Linked DNA regions of Homo sapiens: region 2 is linked to region 1. Evidence: fine-mapped expression QTL. Tissue or cell type: subcutaneous fat. Region 1 holds a variant in brackets; the other region holds the start of a gene. All regions are shown on one strand. Distances are from middle to middle.

The links. PIP is the estimated chance that this variant, and not a neighbour inherited with it, causes the effect.
Region 2: it holds the start of PROKR1, and the variant in region 1 is fine-mapped to the expression of PROKR1 in subcutaneous fat (FUSION, PIP 0.93).

Annotation. Positions count from the first base shown.
Region 1 is chr2:68,721,541-68,732,547 of GRCh38, reverse strand. It overlaps a transcript of ARHGAP25 not described here. Among named protein-coding and RNA genes, the nearest start is that of ARHGAP25, 7.8 kb to the left of the region's middle. The variant G/AG (reference allele first, on the strand shown) is at 5,640.
Region 2 is chr2:68,637,490-68,648,496 of GRCh38, reverse strand. PROKR1 (prokineticin receptor 1) reads right to left here and starts at 4,918. Exons shown (of 3, transcript NM_138964.4): 1 at 4,649-4,918; 2 at 2,191-2,835. The coding sequence starts at 2,675.

The DNA.
Region 1 (11,007 bases):
ACTCAGCTACTTGGAGACATTGCACTACTGCCTGCCTGACCCAAACACCACTGCTCTTTTTCGTATCCCAACTTAATTAAGCGGGTGTGAGAGAGGTAGCTGTCTGGCCCGGCCCAGCAGCATCTCCACGGGGGAATTCGACACCATCTAAAATTTCAGTCCTGGGACCTTTAAACTGAGGAATGTTGAAAATATTTTGAAGGTGTCATTAAGAAACACGCAGGGAACTTCCTTTACTTTTCAGGGTAGGTTCCTGTCAGTCTTGGAAAAACTCGTGACCCATGGGGGAAGTTAGTTGTGCAGATGCGGAAAGGCAATCAGATGGAAAGCACACTCCCCACAAGGGCCCAACACAGCAGCCTTCCCCCACCACAGAGCTCTCTCTCGGTCAGTCAACTGGGTACTGCGCTCCCTCTCTCTGATCTTCATAAAATGAAGAGCCAAATGCCTTGCCTGGTCCCAAAGTTTGAATTAGCATCTGCAGTAGCGCAAGCAAACATTGTTCCATCTGTTGGCTTGTTGAATGATAAGCGGATTTATTAAGGACCAAATTTTTGCTGGACATTGGAAGAACGTTCGTGAACAAGCAGACGTGTTTTCTGCTTCCCCACCTCACCGCCCTGACACCGGCTGTTGTCTCTTACAGTCTGTTGGGGGAGAAGAACAATTAAGTGAACGATTAAATACAGTGTGAGAGAGCTATGTTGGGGAAAGTGTAGGGAGCTAGGGGGGGTGTATATGCGAGGGGCCTAACTGGACTTGGGGAGTGAAGGAAGGGTTCCTGGAAGAAGTGTCTTTTAAAGTAAGGCTTGACAAATGAGTTAGGGAGGCAAGGGGGTTGGAAAAAGGATTCCAGACAAAACCAACAATATGAATGAGGCACGGAGAGAAGAAAGTTCTTCAGGTCGCTCCTAAGAAGGATGAAAGGGGTGGGGCTGAGGAGAAACGAAGCTGGAGAGATAGTCAGGGCTGAGCAGGGCTGGATCACACAGGGCAGGTAAACCTTGACAAAGAGTTCTGACTGTATCCTGGGGAAAACGGAGGTCACTAGGGAGTTTTCAACAGGATAGGGGTGAGGAGGCTGTGGCAGATATCTAAGAGAGAGGAAGAGTGAGGGAGAGAGGTCGGCAGCATGGGCATGGAAAGAAGGGAAAACAACACAGGAGTCATGTGAGTGACAGAATTGATAGCCCCAGGAGAATTATTACAGCAGAAAAAAGAGGCACCCAAGATCCCAGCTCGTCACTGGAAGGGTGTAGTTCCAATCACAGAGATGGGGCACGCACAAAAACAGTGAGGATTGGTAATGAGGAACAAGGAGAAAACGGTGGGCTTAGTTTGGGGCATGTTGATTTAGGGACCCAAGGGGCACTTGAGTGCAGATCTTCTGCACTCAAGGCTCATGTGAGCCTAGAGCTCAAACAGACTCATTCATTCATTCACTCGTTTACTCCATAAACATTTGTACAGGCCTGCGTTGGATGCTGATTAAACAAGAAGGATGATTAAGAACCCAGCCTAATCCTCCAATGAGTCATGAGAGAGAAGTGTAAACTTGCCGTGCAAGATACAAAAATAGTGCATGCACAGGGTAAAGTGGGAGCAGGAAATGGTTCCCTCTGCTTGGGTGGCATCCCAGGAAAGGCGACCCATGAGACAATAGTCAGGAAGCCAGGTGGGGGAGTGAGAGGAGAACGCTCCAGGCAAATGAAATGGCAGATCGCTGTGAAAACACAAATACGGCCCCCATTTAGGGAAGTATCAGAAATGATGTATGGCCCCCAAAGATGCCCCATACCCACTAGTTGAAGTTGCAGGAGCTGCTGGGGCCAGGGTCTGATGCACTTGCTGAAGGGTTGGACTCTAGCCTGAGGAGAACTTTTTTTTTTTTTTTTTCTGAGACAGGGTCTCACTCTGTCAACCAGGCTGGAGTGCAGTGACACAATCATGGCTCACTGCAGCCTCAACCTCCTGGGCTTAAGCAATCCTCACGCCTTGGCCTATGGAGCAGGTGGGACTGCAAGCTTTCACTACCATGCCCGGCTAATTTTTTAAAAACTCGTTCTGTAGAGATGGGGGTCTCACTATGTTGCCCAGGCTGGTCTCAAGCTCCTGGGTTCAAGTGATCCTTCTGCCTTGGCCTCCAAAGTGCTGAGATTACAGACATAAGCCACTGTGTCCAGCCTGGAGAACTCTTAAAACATCTTTCGTTATTATTTTTACCATTACAGAAGTCCGTGCATAATCACCATACAAGTGTTTTAAAAGCAAAAAGAAAATAAAAATCATTGTTACCACTTAATGTGTAATAAGAACTTTTCCCATTCTTGGTTTCCTACTTCTCCCTCACCTTCTACTCATGTGTACATGTAATATATGTATGTATGCATGTATTGTAAATTTTTTAAATGGTGCATATGCTGTCTTATAAACCGTTATCTTCCTTTAACAAAAAAAAGTCATGAAAAAGTATCTGTCATTAAGCATTTTTCCAAAACATCATCAGTGGCCTCATGATTTTTAATTATATGATGAGAGCAAAATTAATTTAACAAATCCCTGTGTCATTGAGCATTGGAGATATGCATAAATTTTCATAATATTCTTATAGCTAAATATCTGGATAAATCTAGTCCTTTTCCCCCCTCAGGGGGAATTCTTAGAGATAGAAATGCTGGGAAAGTGAATAAGAATATACTTATACTAAGGTTTGCTATGTGCTCTCAAATTGCTAAATCACTGAATTGTACACTTTGATGGGTGAATTGCATGGTATGTGAATTATGTATCAATAAAGCTCATAAAAAAACAAGCAGTCAGGTGAAGAACAAACATGAAAAAGTTCTACGGTTTATGTTTCCATTAACAATATATGTAGGGCCCAGTTCCCTCAGAGCCTCACTAACAGTTGGCATTATCATTGCTTTTATTATAAATCATTTTCAGTTGAATAAGCAAATACTTTTTTTATTAAATAGTGGAACTAAAGTTATTTTTTAATGTGTTTATTGGGCATTTGTAAGGGTTGGATGTGTCTAGGTGTCGATGTGTCTGAGTGATTTTGCAAGGAATCAGTGCAGGGGGAGTTTCTTATATCTTTATTTCTGATTTGCAGCCCACTGGCTCTAGGATCTTCTTCAGGAGCATCAGTTATCTGCATGTTAGCTCTCCACTCTGTCACTTCCTTGTCTTTCATTTTGTCATCTCTGTTACTGTTATCTGCATTTGAAGACAGTTTCTCATGTTTGTTCTTCACCTGACTGCTTGTTTTTTATGAGCTGTATTGATACATAATTCACATACCATGCAATTCACCCATCAAAGTGTACAATTCAGTGATCTAGTACATTCAGAGTTGTGCAACCATTGCCACAATCAACTGTAGAACACTTTCATCTTCCACAAAAGAAACTCCATACCCATTAGCAGACCCTCCTCATTTTCCCCAGCACTAGGCAACCACTTTATGTCTCTATAGATTTGTGTATGGACAAAGGTGTCTGTTCTGGACATTTCACATAATGAAGTCATATACTGTAATATGTGGTCTTTTGTGACCGGCTTCTTTCCCTTTGCATGTTTTGAAGTTTCATTCATATTGCAGCATGTATCAGAACTTTATTTCTTTTCATGGCCAAATAATATTCCATTGTGTGGATAGATCAAATTTTGTTTATCTGTTCATTTAGTGGATGGACATTTGGATTGTTTCCAGGTTTTGGCTATTATGAAAAATGATGCTATGAACATTTGTGCACAAGTTTTTTAAATTTTATTTATTTATTTATTTACTTATGTTTACTTATATTACTTATAAAGATTGGAGTCTCACTATGTTGCCCAGGCTGGTCTCAAACTTCTGGGCTCAAGTGATTCTCCTGCCTCAGCCTCTCAAAGTGCTGGAATTACAGGTGTGAGCCACCATGCCTGGCCTTGTGCACAAGTTTTATAAACTATTATCTTCCCCTGACAAAATGGCATTATCATTGCTTTTATTAAAAATTATTTTCAATTGAATAAGCAAGTTTTTTTTTTATTAAAAAATCATCTCTCTTGGGTATGGGCATAGCAGTGGAATTTCTGGGTTATATGGTGACTTTATGTTTAAATTTTTGAGGAACCACCAAAATGTTTTACAAAGTAGCTGCACCATTTTACATTTCCACCAGAAATGTATGAGGGTTTCATTTTTTTCCACGTATTCCCCAACACTTGTTATCATCAGTCTTTTTTTATTTTAGCCATTCTAGTGGATGGTTAGGATGAAATGTTATTATCTCATTGGGGTTTTGATTTGCATTTCCCTGATGACTAATGATGTTAAGCATCTTTTCATTTGCTTATTGGCTGGTTTGGTTTTCCAAAGCAGAATTCCTGCTTCGTGAAACATCCGATGATGTAGTCCCACTGAACCTGCATTTCCTCAAGACCACATCCAGCTAAAACTCAAGCCTTCAACTTTGACTGAAACTTTCCTACTTTTGCCTTATTTCCATTTAATCTTTCTGATGTACATTGTACTCAGTATCATTTCAAATTTCCAGCAGACTTTTTTCTATGTACTTCAGCTGCATTTCCCCTACCCCTTGCCTAGTTCTCTAGAACTTTTAAGTGATGCTGTGCATGAAAAGGCAGTCACATCTTTCTAGGAGTGATTAGATCTGCTGAAGAGAGTCACTTGTCACCAGATCTCTCCCTCTCCTTCTCCATCGAGCTCTCCAGGTTGTGGTTGTCACCGTCATCCCTCATTACCATGATGGTTGTAGCTGTTGTTTTCTGCAGGGATTTAAAACAATGCCTGGGCAGGGGAATGGAGCAATCCTATTCCAGCTGCCTCACGGATGAGCATCAGATAAATGGATGGAGGGAGAGGCAGAAATCAGTTTTCTGAACTTGACATAGTTTGGGTCAGAGTGAAGAACAGACTCCAGGAGAGTCAGAAGGTGAGGGTCTACCTTTGTCAGGAGGTCCCTGGCCATGGCACAAAGCCGGGGGAGGTTTCTCTGAACACAGGCCTTTGTGAAGTAGGGTGATGCCCTGTTAATCAGCAGATGGAAGCTCCGCAGAGGCAGACCCTCTGAGGCAGATCAAGTGCCCTAAATTGGCACAAACCTTTACATTCCTGGGAGACTGTGCCAGGTGCTATTGTGGTCACACTTGTATTGATATTTTCCTTCTAATAGATTTAAGAAGAAAAGCATAATACTTTTTGTACCCACATCTTAACCAAAAGTGAGGGGAAAAAAAGATGGCCTGAAGTCAAGCAGATTGGGAGGAAACACATTTCTTTGTGGCCGTGAGTCAGCCAGTTTCACTCGCTTGTATTTCCCACCTGGCTCGTGCAGGCATTTGAACGTGGGCCCCCGTGTTGCAGACGCACTCAACCAGTAACCACGCTTTTAGCAAATACTAAGTGCATAGGCCGGATGGCTGTATCTTGTGGTCTTGACTGACAGATGCCTCAGCATGTACGTCCTGGAATATAGCATTTGGAGACACCAAACGTAAAGATCTTTTTTATTTGGATTTTAATAGTCTATATCTTTTTAAAAGCTGTATTTACAAGGCACAAAATTAAGGTTTTATTCCCATTCCCTTGGGTATATGGAAAAAAAACAGAAAGGAAAAGAAAAAAAAAA[G/AG]ATTTGTGCAATAGGACTATGCCTTTTTGCAAGCTCAGCAGAGGCAGACCTGGCAGAGGAAGAGATTTCTGGGCTCTGAACACTCTGTGTGAGCCCAGTGGATGGGGTGCAGGCTCCTGGGCTCAGACCACAGAGGCTTGTTCCTCCCAGCCCTGAGCAGTCAGTTGGAGGCACCTCCTCTCGTTACTGATGTCACCTTTGCCAAGGTCCCTGGCATTGGATCTGATGTCTGGCTACAGTTTGATAGTCTATTGATCTTTATTTTTTCTAAGTGTCCCATAGCCAAAAAAAATTGTCCCATAGCCAAAAAATTTATATCTGGAGGCCTGAAGGCCAAGACGGGCATTATTACTGCTGGTGCTCTACCTGGAAGAAGGCTGCTCTGTGAATGATGGGCTCAGGAAGGGAAATGTCTATTTATATGGGAAATTCGTTCCCAGGGGATTATAAAAGAATCTCATGTTTTCCAACAGGAAGGAGCACACTGAGCAAATCAGGAGCAAATGTCCCTCACGTAACACCTCCTTTTGGCCATTGTTCTGTATTACGTTACATTAATTTGAACCACGTGAAGCTGCCAATATTTGACAGCTTTTGACTGGCAAGAACAATCTCATATATTTCCACATAATAGACCCACTCTGCCTCCTGCCACTCATTCATTCAACAAATATAAAGGAACCGTTCACCTATTAGGGATCAGGCAGTGCTCTAGGTGCTGAGAACACAGCCAACAAGAAGACAGATGAAAACGCCTGCTTTTGTGGAGCTTGTTCTAATGAGGAAAGAGACAAGAAAATAAATAAGTGAAATAAATGTAACGTGTTAGATGGTGGTAAGGGCTGTGGAGAAAAAGAAAAAGTGCTACGGGAAGGGGTGAAAGAAATGTCAGATTGAGGGGAGAGGGGAGGGAGATTGCATTTTTAAATAGTTGGACAGCGAAGGTGACATTTCACAGAATAGGTGACATTTGAGTAAAGACCTAAGCCAGGTTGAGAATGAGCCAGGTAAACCTATGTGGGAGAACCTTCCAGCAGATGGAGGTGTGAGTGCAAGAGCTCTGCCAGAGGTGAGAGGAGGCCTAGCACTTCAAGAGACCCCAAGGAGGTCTTGTGTTCACAGCAAAAGGAGGAAGGGGAAGATAACAAGAGATGGGTCAACAAGGTAATAGGGGACGAATTGTATGGGGCTTCATAGGACTTTGCTGGAACTTTGGCTTTTGCTTAGAGTGAGGTTTACAGCAGAGGAGTGCCTTGATTTGATGTATACTTTTAAATAATCAGGCTGGGCATGGTGGCTCATGCCTGTAATCCCAGCACTTTGGGAGGCTGAGGAGGATGACTTGAGCCCAGGAATTCTAAACAGCTTGGTCAACACAGTTGAGGCCCCATCTCTAAAAGAAAAGAAAAGAAAAAAATTGGCCAGGTAGGATGGCATACACCTGTAATCGCCGCTACTCAGGAGGCTGAGATGGGGGGAATGTGTGAGCCCAAGAGTTTGAGGCTACAGTGAGCCACAATCACATCACTGTACTCCAGCCTGGGTGTCAGAGAGAGACTCTGTTTCAATAATTATTATTATTATTATAATAAAATAATAAAAGATCGCTGTGGCCTCGCATTGAGAACAGACTGAAAGGTGGTAGGGCAAGGGTAAAAGCGGAGACCTTAGAGCTGACTGCAATGGTCTAGGTGAGTGAGACAGCAGGTCTGCACCAGCGTGGCCTGCTCAGCTCACTGCGCATGATTGTGCAGGTGATGCAGGGAGCAAGGCACCAGCCTCATGGATAGGTGGGGCTGGAGTCTAGTCAGGGCACTGAGCATCAGCCCAGAGTCTAACTGTGGGGCTTCAGCCATCCAAGGAAGGAGTATCGTTCTCTACTCAAAGGCTCTGCCACCCATTCAGTCATGGGGGTGATGTTTTTCTAAATTGTAGAAAAGCAACACAATATAGACCAGCAAAGGCTCTGCTGGTAGCCAGAAGGTGATGAGAAGTGGCCAATACTTCATATATATCCTGGATCAATCTTATCTGCTCTCCCAACGGGTTGGATGACAGGCGTGACAGAATGAGAGAAGTCAAGGGAAAAATGACAAGGTCGAGCACGGCCTGAGAAAATGGAAAGGAGAAGGTCCCGTTTGCTGAGATGGGAAAGACAGGGAAGGAGCAGGCTGGACAGAGGCTGGAGATAGGCCTGCATTAGGCCAAAGATGCCCAGTAAACATCTCCAAATGGAGATCCTACTGCCACCCAGTAGGCAGCTGGGTCTGAGTCTGGTGTTTAGGGCAGAGGTCCATTGGAGCATAGTTAAATAATGTCAAAGGCTTCTTTCCTCAACCTTAAATATTTTTTGTCACTCAGAGTGGCTCAGGAAGAACATCAGCAAATACAATTGGTAATGGTCTGAGGGTCAGCAGGTGGCTATAGTCCCATCCTCTTAGCATCCCACAGAGGTCATGCACTGTGGAGCTTCCCCAGTGAGGCAGCTGTCTGCTGTTGCAGAGGGGCTAGTATGAGAGAGGTTTTGCTCAGGATAAATAAACATTATAGATTTAGGTGTCAGGTAGTCTAAGCTTAGAGACCAGATGTTTAGAGAGTTGGGGGAAAATGTCAGCTCCTTAACACCTGGAGAGTTCAGGGCCAGTCCAGTGTGAAGTGCAGAGAGTTTGGGGCCCAGTCCAGGAGAGACTGAGGCTTTCTCCCTGGAAGAAAGAAGCCACTCTTCCAGGCTGTCCAGAGAGCTCCAGAGGTCACTCATCTGACGGTCCTTCTCAGCTGCATGGTTCTGCTCTCTGGCCCCAGTGGCTCATCAATGGAGGCCATTGTCCTGTCATACTCAGACCTCAAAGAAGAGAGAGATTTGACAAAAATTAGCTGGGCGTGGTGGCACACCTGTAGTCCCAGCTACTCAGGTAGCCGAGGTGGGAGAATCACTTGAGCCCGAAGGTCCAGGCTGCAGTGAGCTGAGATGGTGCCACTGCACCCCAGCAAGGCAACCGAGTGAGAGCCTGCCCCACCGAGAGAGAAAGAGAGAGAGAGAGAGATTTACTCCCACATCACCCATTTCCCAGTATCAGATGTGTCTACACCTGAACAATTAGGGTCTCTCCTCCTCCTTCCAAAATGAAATAAACCACCCTGAAGGGCCTGGTTGACCCCTTCTGCAGGCCTAGTCAGGCATCATTCATTCCACGTTGGTATACTCTGCTAGAGAAAACACCAGGGCCATCACTTCCACAGGCTGGGACTAGGGATAGAAGAGTTAGCAGGTGCTCACAGTCCCCATCCTCTCAGCTAGCAGTGTGGGACTGTGCCGCACAGAAAAGACAGCTTCTGAGAAAAGCATTTGGAATGAAGAAGCCCAAGAAGCCTCTGGATGCAGGAGCCATAATATTATACAACAGACCATAGAGGCCTGCAGGACTCAGCACAGTCATGAAACAGCCACCAAGGACTGGGAAGCCCAACAGGGAATCTATGTGACACAGAGATGGACTGCTTACCAGCTAAGCGGCATGTGGTTTGAGTGAGCTGGGCTGCATCCCACCAGGATGTGGCATGGCCCACAACTAGAAGGCTAACTTTATAGGCTCCCTGCCCCCGATTAGGGAACTTCACTTTCTTGAAAACATTCTCAAGGCATGAAGTTGTCTGTCTCTTCCAAGGGAATGATCACAGACTACTATGATCATGGATAACTCCCTTTGTCATGTGCTGGATTCCCTGACAATCCCACAGCAAGAACTTCATTTATGACCACTGCCTCCCATGACCACACCCAGCATCGTGGAATTTGCTGGATATTCTACACTCCTATGAACCATTACCGGTGCATCTAAATGAGCACTGGAATGGCCGGTTCAAGAAGCAAAACAGAGGCGCTGTCACCCTTGCTTCATAAAAAAAGAGAGCAGAGAGGTGATGGGAGCCCTCTGCTGGAGCACAGGCCCACGTGTTTCCAGCTGAACTCCAGACCTAGCGCACCTCTCCCGTTTGGAGAGTGGGGAGCCTATGTGGCTGTTGACCTTGGCCTGAGGGTGTCTGCACCAAGTGACACTCGTATTTGCCTCAAGCACTTTGCATGGTGCTTTGCAAAGCTGTCCTTGAGGGCTCATGTGCCCAGCTTGATGGGGAAAAATTGGGAGGTTCAGGAGCCTGAGCTAGGGTGAGACATGGGCCCTCGAGCCAGAGTGGGTTCAAATCCTACCTCTTCAGCTCACTGCCTGGGTGACCCTGGGCATGTTGCTTAACCTCTTTAAGCTTTACTTCTTATATATAAAAAGCACTCAATATAGTGTCTGGAATGTAGCAAATTCTTTTTTTTTTTTTTTCAGACAGGGTCTCGCTCTGTCATCCAAGCTGGAGTGCAGTGGTGCAATCTCTGCTTACTGCAGCCTCCGCCTCCCTGGTTCAAGCGATTCTCCTGCCTCAGCCTCCCGAATAGCTGGGATTACAGGTATGTGCCACCATGCCTGGCTGATTTTTGCATTTTTAGTAGAGTCAGGGTTTTAACATGTTGGCCAGGCTGGTCTTGAACCCCTGACCTCAAGTGATTCACCTGCCTTGGCCTCCCAAAGTGCTGGGATTACAGATGTGAGCCACCACGCCTGGCTGCAAATTCTTAATAAAGAGAAGAAAATAATTTCCAGTGTTGAAATTAGGAGTTCTGAAGAGCCCTTAGAGCTTGTGGCTTATTAAGAAAATAAGCTGAATAACTAGTAAGTTAAAGTGTGCTGAGAGACCTTCCTTTCCTTGTTTAAAAGGCCTATCAGGCTGCAAGGCCAACTTGAGCCAGCTGGGGAGGGTCACTCAAAAGAGTGAGAAAGGACGCTGTCTGTCCACAAAGCACTGCATGCTGAGGTGCTGAGGGTGGTGACCAATTCTGGACCACAAACCTTTGGTGTGGTTTAAGGAGCCGCTCCTTGCCTGCCCCATGGCCCAGCAAGTGTGCGAACAATGACACACCCAGTTTGATCAGCTTGGACACACTGGGTGAGAGGAAGTGGTGTCGTGGGAAGGAGTAGGTAGGAAAGGAGAGAGTTATAATCTCGACACCTAGAGAAGAGCAAGGGATCCAAGTTATGGAAAGGCAAATTTGTAATCCTCTGTCGACCTTAGGTTTCTGTGAGAGGAAATCCAATACAACAGCTGGAGAACTGTATTTTTAAGACAAACCTGGACTGCTCCACCACCCAGCTTCTACTCTCCTGAAATCACGAGATGCTCAGCAGGGTGCTGCCAGAACAGGAAATAACTAGAGCAGCTGATTTCACTGCTGATATGAAAGTCATGGTTCACCTTGAGTGATTACACGTAGAACACCAGACCTCCTGGGGAGAGGAGGAGCTGGTGGGAACCTGTAACTTTA
Region 2 (11,007 bases), 84 kb after region 1:
AAGCTTCCTATCATAACCCCACTCAACCATAGAAGCTCCCACGGTGCAAAGCATTTTTTCTAATTCATCTTTCTTATTGTATCTAATTTCCTTTGTGTAAACTCACACTGCAAGAGAAATGCTTGCAGTATTTCAGACAAGCTCTGTTTGGTATGAAAGGAGGTTATAAGCTTGAAGAAGTTCAGTAGATGGAGACTGACTGATTGACATAGATATCACTCTTACATGTTCCAAATAACCCAATGCCCCTTAGTGTATCCTGGCTTCCTTTCCCCTTGAAGCTACTTCCTCCTACCATTGTTACTCCGTTCAAGTGGTAAAATGGATCTCATCCGGGGAGTAGGGTCCCACTCCACAGGAGGCACCCTACCCTGCTTTTAGTAGCTGAGCACATGTAGTTTCTCGCTAGTATGAAACTTCAGGAAATGACTCTGTATGCTTTGTCCTGTTCATGGGCTAAGAGAGAAGGTGGCGGCTTCTACTTTCAAAAAAGTTCAGAGACAAAGTCCCTGGAGCTCTTCCTTGGCAGCTTTGAAAGGAACCTACGAAGTAGATACTCTACTTGACTGCTCCCCTCCTGCTCCTTCAGTGGGTTCATGCGGGGTCCTTGTCCAGGTAAATGAAAAGCTGCAGGGCTCTTTGATTCAGTGGAGGGAATTTGGCCTCCAGGTAAATGAAAAGCTGCAGGGCTCTGTGATTCAGTGGAGGGAATTTGGCCAAGAAGAAGTAGCACTCTGCAAGGATCTACGGGGACAGACCAAGGGCTATGTAAGCTGCTAACTTCCTGATGTCCTTCCCTAGAGAAGGGAGGCAGAGTTTCCACCCCTCAGCGGTTTTATAGACAGAGGTTCCTTGGTAACCCCCTTTTTTCAGGTTATCCTTTTCGGTCATCCCACCCCTGGTCGCCCTGCCTACGGTCTCAGAAAACAAGCTCTCTTAGCTGTGCTCCTCCCTAGAACACTGTCCTGACTGTGAGGGCCAGGTCAAACCCCCTCAGATCCTTGAGGCCAGAGAACAGGGAGAGCATGTATGCCTCAGGCTCTCTGGGTTAAAGGAGAGAGACAGGCTGTTCAGATCCAAGTACACAGAAGCCTGATTTGATCCTCAGGATAATTGTCTCTAGACTGTAACCAGGTGCTTTGTAATGACAGTCCAGCTGTGGGCAGAGGAGCTAGCAAAGATTGTCCCCCGAGGAACAAAGACCAGCCTGGCCCATTAGCACAAGTTTACACTAAAGGAAGAGACTAAGTTGAAGAAAGATATGCAGAGGCTGCTCTTACTGATTTTATTTGCGATCACCAGAAACAGGTCTTCTGCACTATCTGTGCAAATGGACTAAAAGGTGCAAAGTGATTAATGCAACAACAAAAAGTAAATAAACATATGTTCCCTTTTTTTTCAAAACAAATCCCTCAATCTTTTTATTTTTATTTATTTATTTATTTTTTAGAGACAAGGTCTCCCTCTGTCACCCAGGCTGGAGCACAGTGGCATGAACATAGCTCACTGCAGCCTGGAATTCCTGGGCTCAAGTGATCCTCCTGCCTCAGCCTCTCAACTAGCTAGGACTACAGGCACACACCACCACGCTCAGCTAATTTTTTAATTTTTTCAAAAGGTGAGGTCTGGATATGTTGCCCATGCTGGTCTCGAACTCCTGGCCTCAAATGCTCCTCCTATCTCGGCCTCCCAAATTGCTGGGATTATAGGCTTGAACTGTTTACCACAGCCAGTCATAAATCCTTGAATCTTATTTAAAAACAGATGATGCTAGAAGGTCATATTTTAGTAGAGGAAGTCTTGATGAGATAGAAACCTCCTTCAAGATTTCCACATTGACTCAAGAGGTAACTGCCTGACGCTTAAAGTTTCCCTCGATATCTCCTCTTACCTGTCTACTCTAGACCTTGAAAGGTGTAATATCTAGGAAAACATCCATAGCAAGGGAGATCAAAAGCTTCCCATCACCCAACTCTAGAGGGCTCTGCTGTCTTCTGTCTGAACAAAGCTGGAAAAGGAGAACTCTTCTCACTGTCAGTCAATGGGCAAGCTTTTGAGTCCCCCATGCAACCACATCTAGGGGGAATAGAGACACCTCTCATCAATCTGCAACTGCAGTACAGGAGGGGGCAATTCCAATGCCCCTTCCTCCCTGACCGCCTTTGTTGTCCCCACTGCTGCTGCACTCACCTGTCAATGGCGATGGCCAGCAGGGCATTGGTGGAGACATAGAGAGAGACAGTGCGCAGGTAGTTGACAGAGGTGCACAGGACGTGGCCGTGCTCCCAGGAGAGCTGGCGCACCACATAGTAGTCCATCTCAAAGGGGCAGCAGACAATGGCCACCAGGAAGTCAGAGATGGCCAGGTTGGCGATGAGCAGGTTGGTGAGGTTGCGCAGTTTCTTGTAGCGGACCAGGGCAGCGATAAAGATGAAGTTTCCAATGCCGCAGACCAGCATGATGCCCACCAGGGCCATCCCAATGACAATCTTGGCAGCAAAGAACGTCCTGGAATTGGTCACATCCTCATCTTCATCCAAAGGCATATCATAGTCGCTGTAGCTGAAGTTGAATGGGAAGGAAGTGGCATGGGCTCCATGAGGGTTGAGCACAGAAAGGAAGCTGGTGGAAGTGTTGGTGGCATTGTCATCCATGAACCCCATGGTGGTCTCCATCTGGCCAGGTGGTGCTGTGAGCAACACTGCTCAGAATTCCCCAGGGCAATGTCTGCAAGGCTGATGTCACCCCTCTCTGCTATCAGCCAGCTCTCCCTTAATGAGTCAGAATGTCTCTGCCAGCATCTTTGGGGTATGGTATCTGAGCTCCATTCTAAACCTTTGAAAGACATACAAACAGTTGGCTATATGTTGCAGTAAAGCTGGCCAAATTCAAAACCACCCTGTAACCTAAGCAGACCTATTAGCTCCCTGCCCAGAGTGAACATAGGGTGATGGAGTGGAAATAAAGGAACCAATGAGAGAAAATGAATGAAAACCACATACTCAATTAGGGAAGGGTGGATTGCTATAGAGACAATCAAGCACTGGCTCAGTTTATTTCTGTTCCACTGAAGACTCAGAAGTGTTGCACCTTTTCTCAAGGACAAAAGTTGGGAGTGTGGGGAGGCTGAAGAGAAAGAAATTTCTTTAAATGCTATTTAAGAGGGAGGGCTTTCAGACAAGCCTGTCTGCTCTCCTTGCTCTTCTGGCAGAACATGGCTCTAAAATCACAGAGCCATAGAGCAGCCACCTTCCTCACTATTTGCTGGACTTCCTGTTCCCACATTAGAACCTGCTATGACCCTAGAAGCTGGGAACAGCATTTATGAAGGCCTGTCCCCAGACAGAGGCTGTAGGGTAAAGTCACAGCCTGTGACTAACCAAGTGATGAGAATGGGGACGCTAGAGCAAAATTTTTCCTTGGCTGGTTGAGTGTCCAGGGGTAAATAGCTTAAACACTCAGAGGTTCAACTTCTGCCAGGCAGGAGATCAATAATGTCTGCACAGCCTGGAGCTCCCTGGAGGAGAGTGTTACACCCTAGAACTGCAAGGAGTTACTACTGCGCTCTCAGGCCTCCTCTGTCAGCTGCAAGGAAGGGGAGCGAAATCCTGATACAGGGACTCCACCACACCACATAATGGGGCTGGGGTGAGGGGTCTAGGGGGGTGTCAGCTGCCCTGGTGGGGACAGGGAGGCAGCCAGAGTCCCCCTGTCCCCTGCTCTCTCCCTGCAGTCCCTCCCAAACCCTGAAGACATCAGACCAGGGAGTGGGACGTAGAAGGAGGGCTGAGGTCTGGAGAGCACCCTAAAACAAATGTCAGGAGAACAGAGGGAAGAATGCAAGCCAGAGTTTTCCTGGGAAAGGAAGATGAGGAAGATGCCCAGGACCCCACCTCCCCACCCCCAGGAAAGCCTGCTCTCCATATTCCTCCGAGGCAAAACATCTGGAGCCTGTCTTCTTGGGGCCAAGTTTAAAGTCCCTCTGCGCCCCAGTGAGGCTCAGCCCCATTGCTGCCTCTCTGTCCTAACTCCTTACCCTGATTTTTTCCTTCCTCCGAGCTCTCAATTCTGTCTGGCTCAGCCCTTGCCCTCTGCCCACTCAGGGAGGAGAGGCAGAACTCAGCTGAAAAGAAGGAGGGGGGCAGGCTTGGAACCCAGGCGGGACAAGCCCCACTCCTTGCAGGTCCCGTGGGTCGCAGAGGCATGCCACTCCTGGAGGGGTACCCCTACAAGCATGCTACCTGAAGGGTCAAAGTAGTGTTTAAAAGCAAAGAATACAGAAGCTTCGGGGGTGGAGAGGAGGGCGTCACGAGATTAAGGATGATTGTCCAGAGGTCTTTTCTCCTTTATTCTCACCGTTCAGAGGGGAACCCCAATCCTACCCCCACCTGGTGACCTCTCGATCGCTAGAAGCCTCTCTCACAAACCCCTGCTGGCAAGTCCCCCGCCTGCTCCCAACTTTCTCCCTGGAGCCTGGGCAGCTTCCCCTAAGGACAGAGGAGGGGAAGCCTGGCTCTCCTGAAGAAACTCACAGGAGTGAATCCCTGGCAAAGTCCCCTCTTCACTCAGAAGCCGCCGCACCCCACGGCCGCAGCCAGTGCAGCGCGGGGTCCCTGGAGCATCCTCCCCGGGAGGGCGCGCTCTGTACCTGCGGCATCGCGGAGCCCGGCAGGCAAGGTCCGGGTTTCTTATTCCGGGGCCGGATCAGGAGACGCTTCTTCCAGAAGCCGGCAGGCGAAGGGCAGGTCCCCGCTCCCTTCCTCCTCTGCTCGGGGCTCTTTCCCGGCTCTGGCGGGGGAGTTACCTTCGCGCCGCCGCTGCAGATCCCCCGACCCGGCCCGCGCCGGACTCCCTGTCCCCGCCTCCGGTGGCCGTGAGGCGCCGAGGTGCGGGCTCTTGGCGAGGCGTGTCGCCAGCTGGGCTGCAGAGGCCGGGATCGCCCTGGGCGGGAGCGTCCGGATCGCCCTGGGCGGGAGCGTCTGGAGCTCCCAGGCGGCAGCTCGCGACGAGGACGCGCGGGAGGGAGCCGGGCCAGGCGGGCTGCGCGTTGCCCGGCTCAGGCTTCGGAACGGCCGCCTGGGGCAGGAACGGGGTCGCTGGGGCTCCGGGCAGGGCTCTGCGTCAATCCCGCGCCGGGGGCACCCATGCAGGGCGGCTGTGCCCGCCTCGGGGCACGGGGCTCCTCGGCGGCTCACCTTGGCAGCCCAGCGCCGTCGGAGTGGACGGACACGGCCCCGCTCAGCCGCGAGCTTGCAAAGGACCGAGGAGCCTCCCCCGCTGCTCACACACCTCCTCAGGGGACACTCAGGGGCCGGCCCCAACCTGGTCCCCTGGGCCAGCCTGAACGGACACCAGGGCCATCTTTGTTGCCAGCTGCCCTACCTCTCCGTAAAAGAGGCTCAGAGAAGTGCTTTCTGGAGAGCAAACAAGGGGGCGGGGTAGCACACTGGAGAGAGGAAGGACCCCCGCCCAGGGATGTCTGCTTAGAAGGCTGGGACGGACAGCGCTGACTTACAGAGCACAGTCTACCTTTACAAGCCCATAGATTCCTCAAAACGTGAGGCATATAGTCCCGCAATCCCACTCCAAGGTATGTAACCCCAAACTATTGAAAGCAGGGACACACATACACTGATGTTCATGGCAGCACTATTCACAGTAGCCAAAAGACAGAAACAACCCAAATGTCCATCAGCTAAGTGGATTAACAAAATACATATAGTATATACATGCAATAGAATATTATCCAGCTGTAAAAAGAAATGATAACAAGTGTTGGTGAGAATGTGGAGAAACTGGAACCCTGTGCACTGTCGGTAGGAAAGTAAAATGGTGAAGCCACTGTAGAAAACAGTATAGGGTTTCCTCAAAAAGTTAAAAAATACAATTACCATATGATCGAGTGTTTCCACTTCCGGGTGTCTAACCCAAAAAATTAAAAGCAGGGTGATACGGTTTGGCTGTGTCCCCACCCAAATCTCAACTTGAATTGTATCTCCCAGAATTCCCACGTATTGTGGGAGGGACCCAGGGGAAGGTAATTGAATCATGGGAGCCTGTTTTTCCCATGCTATTCTCGTGATAGTGAATAAGCCTGACGAGATCCTGTGGGTTTATCAGGGGTTTCCACTTTTGCTTCTCCCTCAGTTTCCTCTTGATGCTACCACGTAAGGAATGCCTTTCACCTCCTGCCTTGATTCTGAGGCCTCCCCAGTCATGTGGAACTGTAAGTCCAATTAAACCTCCTTTTGTTCCCAGTTTCCGGTATGTCTTTATCAGCAGTGTGCAAGTGAACTAATACACAGGGTCTCAAAGGCATGTTTGTACATCCATGTTCATAGCAGCATTATTCACCATAGCGAAAACATGGAAACAATCCAAATGTCCATCAATGATGAAGGGACAAACAAAATGCTCCACATACACACATACACTCACATGGGAACTTCCAAAAGTTTGTGGGAAAATGGAATTAAAAGATAAAAATACATAAACTTTAGCTCTCAGCATAAGCTCCATCACGTTCAAGATGCTTTTGTAATGATGGCAGACATTTAGTCCATCTCTAAAGGACTAAGGATCCTGGGAATTTTTCTATTTTATTTATTTATTTTTATTTTTTTGTTAAAACAGGGTCTGGCTAGGTTGCTCAGGCTGGTCTCAAACTCCTGGCCTCAAGCAATCCTCTCACCTCAGCCTCCCAAAATGCTGGGATTACAAGCATGAGCCACCAGGCCTGGCATGGGTCCTGGGAACTTAACCATGTCAATGAAGCCCTTTTTTTTTACATTATTAACGTAAGAAAAATAGCTGCTCCTTAAAGACTTTTTAAGATTAGGAAATGAAGTCAGAAAGAGCCAAATCAGGATGGTAAGAAGGATGGCTAATAATTGCCCTTGTTCAATTAGAGGAATGAGCAGTAGTATTGTCATGGTGGAGAAGGACTCTTTGGTGGAGCTTTTTCAGGCATTTTTTCTGCTAAAGCTTTGGCTAATTTCTCAAAATACCCTCATAATAAGCAGATATTTCATTCTTTGGCCCTCTACAGAAAATCACATGCAAAATACTGTGAGCATCCCCCAAAAACTATTGCTATGACCTTTGCTCTTGATTAGTTTGCTTTTGCTTTGTCTGAACCACTTCCACCTCTTGGTAGCCATTGCTTTGATTGTGCTTTGTCTTCTGGATCACACTTGTAAAGCCTGTTTTTTCTGTTATTACAGTTCTTCAAAGAAATCTTTCATGATCTTGATCCCGCTTGTTTCGTATTTCCATTGAAAGCTCTATTCTTGTCTACAGCTGATCTGGTCACAACAATTTTGGCACCCATCAAGTGGAAAGTGTGCTCAACTTTAATCTGCCAGTCAGAAATGAGTAAGTTCAACCAACTGAGGTGTCTGTGGTGTTGGTTATGTTTATGCTGTTAATCATCAGTCCTCTTCAATTAGGGCATGAATAAGGTTAATTTTTTTCTCACAAATTATGTGGATGGTCTGCTGCTGCAGACTTCATCTTCAACATCCTCTCGTCCCTTCCTGAAATGAGTATCCACTTGTAAACCGCTGATATCTTTGGGTCATTGCCCACAAAAAGCTCTTCGTAAAGTATCAGTGATTTCACCATTCTTCCACCCAAGCTTCACCATAAATTTCATGTTTGCCGTTGCTTCAATTTTTCAGAATTCATGTTCCTCTGAGAGGGGCTCTTTTCAAACTGATATCTTATCCTTCTTAGTGACTCAAACTAGATCCTGTTCAGACATGTTGTAACAAATGAGTACGAGTTTATTTGGGTGCAAACAAAAATTGAAATCCATGCTTACTTTTTTCATAATATGCATGCTCCCCAAATTTTTGAAGCCCCTTCATGTGTATGTGTGTGCGTATATACACAGAATGCAATATTATTCAGCCTTCAAATGGAATGAAATTCTGACACATGCTACAACACGGATATACCTTGAAGACATTGTGCTAAGTGAAATAAGCCAGTCACAAAAGACAAATACTATATGATTCCACTTACATGAGGTAGCTAGAGTAGTCAAATTCATAGAGACAAAAAGTAGGATGATGGTTGCCTAGGTCTTGGGGAAGAAGGAATGGGGAGCTATTGTTTAATTGGTACAAAGTTTCAGTTTTGCAAAATGAAAATAATTATGAAGATGGAGAGTGGTAATGGTTGCACAACAATCTGAATGTACTTAATACCACTGAACTGTATATGTAAAAACTGTTACAATGGTAAATATTTTTTTTCACTTTACCACAATGAGAAAATGGGGAAAAAAGGAATGGTGTACTGACACATGCTACAACATGGGTGAATCTTGAAAACATGATGCTAAATTAAATAAGCCTATCATAAAAAACAAATATTGAATGATTCCACATATATAAGATACCTAAAATAGGCAAATTCATAAAGTCAGAAGGTAGAATGATTGTTACCAAGGGATGAGGGGGAGGGGGAATAGGAGATTATTATCTGATGGGTTCAGAGTTTCCGTTTGGGATGATGAAAAAGTTCTGGCAATGGATAGTGGTGATGGTTGCACAACATTGTCAATGCATTAATGTCACTGAATTGTAACTTAAACAGTTAACATGGTGAATTTTATGTTATGTGTATTTTACATATGCAGCCATGCATCACTTAGCAATGAGGATATGTTCTGAGAAATGCATCATTAGGCAATTTCATTGTGTGACTATCATAGAGTGTACTTAACACAAACCTAGATGGTATAACCTACTATACACCTAGTCTGTATGGTATAGCCTAGTGCTCCTAGGCTACAAATTGGAACAGTATGCTACTATACTGAATACTATAGGCAATGGTAATATAATGGTAAACATATCTAAACATAGAAAAGGTACAGTAAAAATATGGTATTATAATCTTATGGCACCACCATCATATATGTGGTTCATCTTTGATCAAAACGTCATTATGTAGCCCATGACTGAATGTATCTCCTATAGCATAGCTCGGACTTCCTTAGCAAGGCATCCACAAAGGCCTATACGATGTTGGCCTCCAGTTTTCTGTAGTGGAAAGAGAGTGCTGCCTGGGATCTGGATCTTTAGTACATTTTGCCACTATCAAAATATACTAAAGGTACAAAATGTATATGACTTTAGGCAAGTCATATACCTTCTCTGGGGTTCTCTTTCCTCATTTACAAAATGAATGAGTTGAGCTTGCACTAGGAAATCACTGCCAAGTTCCAATACTTCATGCAGTTTCTTCCCCTGGCCCATATACCTCCCTGGACACTTTCTCCTGTCATTTGCAAAAATGTCACAGCTGTTACACATCTCTGAGGCTCATGTCACCTGGAAGGTGGAAGAGGACAGTGGGAAAGAGCATAAGATAAGGAGTACCGCCTCCTTTCTACCTAGCTCTGCACATGTGAACGGTGTCACCTTGGGCAGTGTGGTAACCAAAACCTAGCCTTTCTCTTTTGAAATTAGGAATTACAATAGCTTCTACTTCATAAGGTTGTGGTGAGGATTAAATAAAATATGGTGGGTTAAATGCTTAGCACAATGCCTGGCACCTAGCAGGCACCTGAGAAATGCCAGCTATTACTATTCCTTGGTGATTCTTTCTATATCTGGCCTCGTATGGGGTCGTAACTAATCTTGAGACTTTGCTCACATGTCATTTCTTCCAGGAGGCACTCCTTAATTCCTCCAATGGTTTTCATGTCTTCCTTACGTCTTGTTGGTTCTCTTTAAATGCACTTTTGTGCACCAATTTGCTTTCCATCTTGCACTCTTTCTGAGAAGGAGCTATGTCTCATTCATTTTTGCATCCTATTCTGCAATGTTTTTCAGACTTGCCTGATTATATGAATTATCTGGAGTGGTAGTTGAACCTACTGATTCTTAAGTCCCACTTCAAACCAAGGGAAGGGGCCTAGAAATCTAAATGTTTAAGCAGCACCCCAAGTGATTTTCTTTCTTTAGAGTCAGGGTCTCACTCTGTCACCCAGGTTGGAGTGCAGTGGCACAATCATAGCTCACTGCAGCCTCAACCTCCTGGGCTCAAGCCATCCTCCCACCACAGCCTTTCAGGGTAGCTATGACTGCAGGTGCATGCCATTATGCCCAGCTAAGTTTTTCAGGTTTTTTTGTAGAGATGTGGCCTCATTATGTTGCTCAGGCTGGTCTCGAACTCCTGGCTTTAAGCAACCCTCCCACCTTGGCCTCCCAAAGTGCTGGGATTACAGGTGTGAGCCACTGCACCCAGCTCCAGGCAATTATTATTATCAAGTGAGTTTGAGAATCTAAGAACTTACAACAGAGCTAGGCACAAGATACAAAACGTTCATTTGTCATTCCATGTAGCATATGTCTTCCTGACTGCATTTGTCTCTACTCAAAAATAAAAAACAATACTGGTTTGATATGAATGATTGTGATAAAATTCATAGCCTCTAGAATTGATGAGGCATCACGGAATGCATTCACTATCTAATACTGCATAACAAATCATCCCAAAACATAGCAACTTAAAACAAATATATTATCTCATAGATTCTGAGGGTTAAGAATCTGGGAGTGGCTGAGTTGGGTGATCCCAACCTCTAGGTCTGTCATGATATTGGAGTCAAGCTATCAGCCAGGGCTGCAGTCTCATCTGAGTGTTCAAGTGAGGGAGGATGCACCTCAAAGCTTACTTATGTGGTTGTTGCCAGGCCTCAGTGTTTTACTGGCTATTGCTGGAGACTTTAGTTCCTTACCATGTGGGCATAGCTCTAGGTTTCCTGGGTGACTTCACAATGCGGCAGTGAAACTCTCCTACGTGTGCTATATGCTGTTCATCACAAAACAAACCCTGGTACAATGTGGAAAGGGAGCCACACAGGTGTGTGAATGCCAAGAGGTGGAACCACTGGAGGCTAACATGGAGGTCATCTTGGAGGCTGACTACCACACAGAACTTAGAATTTTCCTTTTCCACTTCAAAGATCTGGCAGGAAATGGTAGTTGAGGC